2 linked regions of the Homo sapiens genome follow. The protein of the gene in region 2 interacts with the protein of the main gene of each other region in a biochemical or structural test. Each region holds a gene or a part of one and is shown on either strand. Other genes may lie near its edges.

The links. The genes of interacting proteins can lie anywhere in the genome.
Region 1: the proteins of EPS15 (region 2) and UBQLN1 form a complex in vitro, tested with the Homo sapiens proteins (one study listed by BioGRID).

Annotation. Positions count from the first base shown.
Region 1 is NC_000009.12:83,701,459-83,704,958, forward strand, and holds part of UBQLN1 (ubiquilin-1), read right to left. Parts: intron 1-3,500. UniProt on the Homo sapiens protein: Plays an important role in the regulation of different protein degradation mechanisms and pathways including ubiquitin-proteasome system (UPS), autophagy and endoplasmic reticulum-associated protein degradation (ERAD) pathway.
Region 2 is NC_000001.11:51,404,088-51,407,941, reverse strand, and holds part of EPS15 (epidermal growth factor receptor substrate 15), read left to right. Parts: intron 1-1,833; coding exon 1,834-2,037; intron 2,038-3,854. UniProt on the Homo sapiens protein: Involved in cell growth regulation. May be involved in the regulation of mitogenic signals and control of cell proliferation. Involved in the internalization of ligand-inducible receptors of the receptor tyrosine kinase (RTK) type, in particular EGFR.

The sequences.
Region 1 (3,500 bases), on a different chromosome or scaffold from region 2:
TCTCATGGTACCCTTAACAGGGTATGGGGACTCCCCAAACCACAGTGAGAACTACTGCTCAGATAACAAAAAGCAAATTTGTCTAGCAGGCTGTCCAGTTTTCCTCAGAGTGCCCCCAGCAAAAATAATAATGAAAATAAAAAGCAAAATAATCACAGTAAGATACCATTTCACAGCCAGTAAGATGGCTATAATCACAAAGACAGTAATAAGTATTACCGAGAATGTGGTTATCGGAATCCTCATGCATTGCTAGTGGAAATGTAAAATGGTACAGACACCTTAGAAAATAATTTGGCAGCTCCTCATAAAGCTCAACATAGAGCTTTGACCCAGCAATTTCCACTCCAAGATCTACACCCAAGAAAAATGAAAACGTTATGTCCCCACAAAAACTTATACATGAGTGTTCAGAGGCATTAGTCACAATAGCCAGAAAGTAGAAACAACCCAATGTCCACCACGTGATAGAAAAATAAAATGTGGAATGCTGTTGGCAACACAATGGAATGTTATTCGGCAATAAAAAGGAAGTAAGTACCGGCACATGCTTCAACAGGGATGAACCTTGAAAACACTATGCTAAGTGAAAGCCAATCACAAAAGACCACATGATTCCACTTACAACAAACGCCCAGAACAAGCAAATCTATAGACAAAAAATAGATCAGTAGTTGCCTAAGGCTGGGGGGCCCAGGGAGAAACGAAGGGCAACTGCTAAAGGGTACAGCGTTTCTTTTTGAGGGTTCTAAACGTTCTAAAATTGACTACACGACCCTGTGAATGTATTACATCAATTACAGACTTTAAAATGGTGAACTGTATGGTAGGCAAATTACACTTCAATTACGCTCTTTCTTAAAAAAAGCTAAGCAATCTCTGTTAATCAGAATCATTAAATAACGAGTTTTTCAGCTGTCCAGTATTAGAACAAAGCAAATAAGAAAACAATGATCTCACAGACATTTTTTTTCTCAGATATCTTGCTATACTGATTCAATCCAACCTTCTGGATAAGATGTTGTCCAGCAGAAATATATATAAGCCACAAGTAATTTAAAAATTTTAAGCAGCCATACTGAAAAAAAAGTTTTTAATAAAAGGTCAAATTAATTTTGATATTTTACTTAACTCACGATCTGCAAAATACTATTTCAATACATAATATATCAAAAGTATTAAGATATTTATTTTGTTCATACCAAATTTTCAAAATCTGGTATAAATTTTACACTTAACACATCTCACTTTTTAAGTACTTAACCACATGTGGGTGATGGTATCAAAGTGGACAGTATAGTTCTAGATCCACACTATACAGTATAACGTTAAATCATGTGTGTGATGATGACCCTAAGGCAAGTTGCCTTATCAAAGAAAGGCTCAATTTGACTCAATACGTTTAAATTATGTCTAAGTATATTAATATTTTCCCAGAAGTTTGCACTGACAGAAGGCACTTTCTAAAACCAGAGTATATACTGCCTGAACATTTCAAGTAAATGTACTTCAAAATTTTACACATAACCTAACAGTCTATGAAATCCCAGAATAAGCTAATTAGAAGTTACACAGAAACTCCCCTCCATTATCTGCACTAATGTCTCACATATATAACTCTCCATTCTTCTAGATGTTATCTTGCTCGTGGATACTTGGAAATCCTCAAAGCTCTTTTCAATAGCTGATGATGAACAATTAACCAAAAAAAAAAAATCTCATACACAGGGACTTTGTGCCACTACACATTTATGCTTTTGTATCTATTTACTTACATACAGGTTGAGCATCCCCAATCCAAAAATATGAAATCTGAAATGCTCCAAAATCTGAAATTTTTTAACACCATGACATCACATGTGGAAAAATCCCATATGTAACACCTTTGCTTTCTGATGGTTCAATGTATACAGTTTGTTTCACTCGCAAAATTATTTAAAATATTGTATAAAATTACCTTTAGGCTCTGTGCATAAAATGTACATGAAATATAACTGAATTTCATGTTTATATTTAGGTGCCATCCCCAAGATATCTCATTATGTATATACAAATATTCCAAAATCCAAAAAAAAAGAAAATCCAAAGTCCCAAACACTTCTGGTCCCAAGCATTTCCCATAAGGGATACTCAAAACCTGTATTACAAAAATCTCTATTAATGACAGCACCTTGGAATGTACACAGTGCAGTTTATATTCTCACTACCTATTCTAGCAACCTGTAAGTAAAAATTTATGTTACTCAGTTGATTCTGAGTGCTCCGTGAATAATAAATTTCACTCTAAATTGGAAAAAAGCTTAAGCTTTATTAGTAACCTTGAACAAGTAACATTATTAAATACCAAATGTATATAGCACTGTAAAAAATTAAGGCAACCTGTTTCTGCCTGTTGGTACTCACGACCAGAAACCAATGGAAAAATAGGAAAATAAATTACCACCTTACAATTTACCCAAGAAGTTTAACGTAATTTCATCTAATCACTTATTACAGCATGTTCATATAAACAGAATTTTGGTATAATGTGTTAAGGAATCTACATTACATAGAAATACTTATTGAAAGAAATTTTAACTTATAGAAAACGGAATTTGTCTGATACAGAGCATAAGCCTTCAATATTATCCTCTGGAGGTCTTCGGCTTACCCTCTGACCCTCCAAAATTAGGTACAAATTTTAAAGACTAAATATTTCCCAATTTCTAACTGGACACTTTCAGTGGAATTTTAATGTCATTAAGTATTTTTAATGACAAATTTTCATTTGTAACAAACAGTTTCAATCAAACCCTTTAAAATTTTTAAATTATAAAATGGCATATCTTTTGTGCTTCAAGTAGATTTTACAAATAGGTCATTTGAAAACTGCTTTTCTTTTTCTTCCACATTTTCCTGTATCTGTTTCCCTTGCATATACAAAGCCCAACTTGTCTACAGGTTCTCTGGTGTGGTGATAAGCGTCAATTTTTATCACATTTTCTGCTTCAACATAAAACAATGATCAAGAATTTAAAAATAAACTACCATCAGAAAAGGCTACTTCAGAAAGACTTTAATTTTATCTATTAACAATTCGTACTGGGCCGGGTGCCCGGTGGTTCACACCTGTAATCCTAGCACTTTGGGAAGCCGAGGCAGGCGGATCACAAGATCAGGAGTTCGAGACCAGCCTGGCCAACATGGTGAAACCCTGTCTCTACTACAAATAGGAAAATTAGCCGGGTGTGGTGTGGCATGCGCCTGTAGTCTCAGCTACTAGGGAAGCTGGGGTGGGAGAATCCTTGAACCCGGGAAGGGGAGGTTGCAGTGAGCCGACACCATGCCATTGCACTCCAGCCTGGGGGGTGACAGAGACTCCATCTCAAAAAAAAAAAAAAAAAAAAAATCTCACTTTGGTTACAGCAGAGTAAAATAAAAGCGTTCACAGAATTTATAATTTTAACATCACAAAAAGCAAAAACATCCTCACAGCTATAACATCATATATTGACTGAAAG
Region 2 (3,854 bases):
TTATCATTGGAGTAGTGATTAAGAGTGTGGGCTTTGTGGCTAGATGGTCTAGGTTTAAGTACTGGTGTGCCACTTACTAGCTAAATCACCTTAGTATCAGATTCTTCATCTTCAAAATTGGAGGATTAATAAATACCCTACCCCTTAGGGCCACTGTGAGGATTAATGAGGCAAAACCTGTAAGACATTTTAGCATGGTGCTTGGTACATAAATGCTCCATAAGTGTTGCCTGTTTTATAAACAATAACCTAGTTTCTTCTGTTTTGTGATTCTAATTTTGAATTCACATTTGCTAATTTGGAAACTTTTTTCTTAAGGAAATTGTTCCTTCTGTAGATAAATTTGCAGTGTTATAGTTGGTCTTATGTATAGATCCTTTGCTTTATTTCCAGGTTTCCCTACATGAAGACTAATGTTTTAATGAATGATAAGATAGTTAGGGCTCGGCATGGTGGTGGCCCATGCCTGTAATCCCAGCACTTTGGGAGGCTGAGGCAATGGATCACTTGAGGCCGGGAGTTCGAGACCAGCCCTGCCAACATGGCCAAACTCTGTTTCTACTAAAAGGTACAAAAATTAACTGGGCATGGTGGTACCTGCCTGTAATTCCAGCTACTTGGGAGGCTGAGGCACGAGAATCACTTGAGCCTGGGAGGCAGAGGTTGCAGTGAGCTCAGATCACACCACTGCACTCCACCCTGGGCAACAGAGTGAGAATCTGTCTCAAAAAATAAAAACTAAAAAAAAAAGGATAGAAACACAGAGATCATGGAGTTGATTTCTTTCATTATGAATTTGAACAAACTAAAGCCAAGGAAGTTCAAGTAACTTTCTCAAGGTTACATATCCTTGAAAAGAGCTACATCTAAAATCCAGTTCTTCTAAAACCCAGTCCAGTGTGCTCAGTTATTACATATAATGAAGTCCTTCACTTTTGCGCTTCCTTACCCCCTGTTATCTGGCAGCTGAGTACCTACCTACTCATTCGTCATGCAAGATATACCTTAAATTCTTATTTCTTTATGGTATTTTCTGCATCCTGCTTTTGTTGGACTTTGTATTTATGTTACAGCAATAATAAGATTTTTCCCTGCATATTTGCTTATATGTCTGTCTCCCCTAGCAGAGTCATGGTTTTGGTCTGGGAACTTACACATTTTTAAAAATCCGTATCATTTAGCACAGTTCTTGTCCCAGTGTAGGTACTCAATAAACAGGTAACCTGAAAGAGTTGTTGTAGTGAGAATGCTACCAGATGAATGGGTATTCTTTAAAGTATTTTCTTTTTTTGAATCTCTTTAAAAAAAAAATCCATGTATACTAAAATTTCAAGAGAGAAATACTTATTGTCAGAAATTACTGAATCTTTTCTCTAAGTCACGTAGCATTCCCAGAGGATTCTTCTTAAAGGAAGCAAATGTATCCTAGACCAAGTCTACAGGTATAGCCATTTTTATTTTATTTATTTTTTTGAGACAGGGTCTCATTCTGTCACTCGAGTGCAGTGGTGTGATCATGGCTCACTGCAGCCTTGACCTCTGGGCTCAAGTGATCCTCCCATCTCAGCCTTCTGAGTAGCTGGGACTACAGGTGCACTCCATCATGCCCAGCTAATTTTTATATTTCTTGTAGAAATGAGGTTTCACCGTGTTGCTCAGGCTGGTCTTGAACTCCTGGGCTGAAGCAGTCCTCCTGCCTCAGTTTCCCAAAGTGTTGAGATTATAGGCATGAGCTACCACACCTAGCCCGTCAGGAAGTGGAGGAGGGCGTTTTTATGTTACATGTCTTTCTAGTAATAAATTCTGTTCTATATTTCTTCTTTGTGTTGGCAGATGCAAATGAAACTGATGGAAATGAAAGATTTGGAAAATCATAATAGTCAGTTAAATTGGTGCAGTAGCCCACACAGCATTCTTGTAAACGGAGCTACAGATTATTGCAGCCTCAGCACCAGCAGCAGTGAAACAGCCAACCTTAATGAACATGTTGAAGGCCAGAGCAACCTAGAGTCTGAGCCCATACACCAGGAATCTCCAGTGAGTCTAATACTTTCATAACCTTCATAATCAACCTCCTTGTGCAGATCCAAGTTTCACTGACATTATATCTAATATAAATACATGGCCTTGCCTCATCTGAGGACAATTGAGATTTCCTTTTTAGAAGCAGAGAGTCCTAATCCAAACAATTGTACGTTTTAACTAGTATAAAAAGATAACTTTAGCTAATTTTTTTTTTTTTGGAGATGGAGTTTTGCTCTTGTTGCCCAGGCTGGAGTGCAGTGGTGCGATCTTGGCTTACTGCAACCTCCGTCTCCTGGGTTCAAGCAATTCTCCTGCCTCAGCCTCCTGAGTAGCTGGGATTACAGTCACGTGCCACCACACTCAGCTAATTTTTTGTATTTTTAGTAGAGATGGGGTTTCATCATGTTGGCCAGGCTGGTTTCGAACTCCTGACCTCAAGTGACCCATCTGCCTCGGCCTCCCAAAGTGCAGGGATTACAGGCGTGAGCCACCACGCCCAGCCAGCTAATTTATTTTTTGTAGAGCCTGTTTTTAAAATGGTGGTTCTATAGAGTAAAACTTTTTTTTTAAGTACCCTCACCAAAAGCTAAAATTATTTTTATTACGTAGTGTTAAGGACATTCATTTACCAATTATTTGACGAGTACCAACTATGTGCAAGAGTGCTGTATTACATAATATAAGAGCTACAGAGACAAGAGACCTCAGTCTTTCCTTCAAGCAGCCTACAGTGTAGTAGTGTAACACTGTGTTAAAGGGCTGTGCTAAAGGAAGCGCAGAATTTTCAGTTAGGACAGTTTGGAGGGGGTTCATAAAGATTTTGTTGGGGAAAGCTTTGCGAGTTTAGACAAGTGAGAAGTGGTTAAGCAAAGAAGAGGAGGATACATTCCTGCCAGAGAAAACAGTATTAGTATAGGTACAAGGTGGAAGAATACATGCAGCACAGAATCTTGAGAAGTTCTGAAGGATATCTTGTGATGGTGGAGAGGGTATTGGTAAGAGATGAGGCGCTTCTAGTAGGCATCTGCATTACCTCTGGTGATTGTCAAAGTATAAATGTGTATCCCTTTCCCCAAACTTGCTGAACTAGTTTCTGGGATAGAGCCAGATATGTATATTTTAAAAACACACTCTATGGGTGATTGTCATGTGCACCTGGATAAAAATGACCAATTTTAGGTCAGAAAGTGCCAGAAGATGAGAAATTTAGATTCATCTTAAAGCATTGGGGGATTTATCCTACTGCAATGAACAGCCATTGAAGAATTTTAAGCAAGAAGTGACGTGATTAACTTTTAGAAATGTGGAAAACGGATTAGAGAGTGAGACTGTACCCGTAGAAGGGATAATGAGAAGAATAGAAGTTTGAGAGGTATTAAAAGTGAAAAGTTAACAGACTCGATTTTATTTACACAGTGCAGTCATGTATGCATTATAAAATATTCTTTCAAGCGCAAAAGGCAGATTACTAGGTTATCCTGCAAATAGATAAGGGTGGTATAAAGTAGCTATTGCCCTGCTACTTTTTTTTTTTTTTTTGAGACGGAGTCTCGCTCTGTTGCCCAGGCTGGAGTGCAGTGGCGCAATCTCAGCTCACTGCAACCTCTGCCTCCTGGGTTCAAGCTATTCTCCTGCCTCAGCCTCCCGGGTTTAAGCTATTCTCCTGCCTCAGCCTCCCGAGTAGCTGGGACTACAGGCGTGTGCCACCACACCTGGCTAATTTTTTGCATTTTTAGTAGAGACGGGGTTTCACCGTGTTAGCCAGGAAGGTCTCGATCTCCTGACCTTGTGATCTGCCTGCCTCGGCCTCCCAAAGTGCTGGGATTACA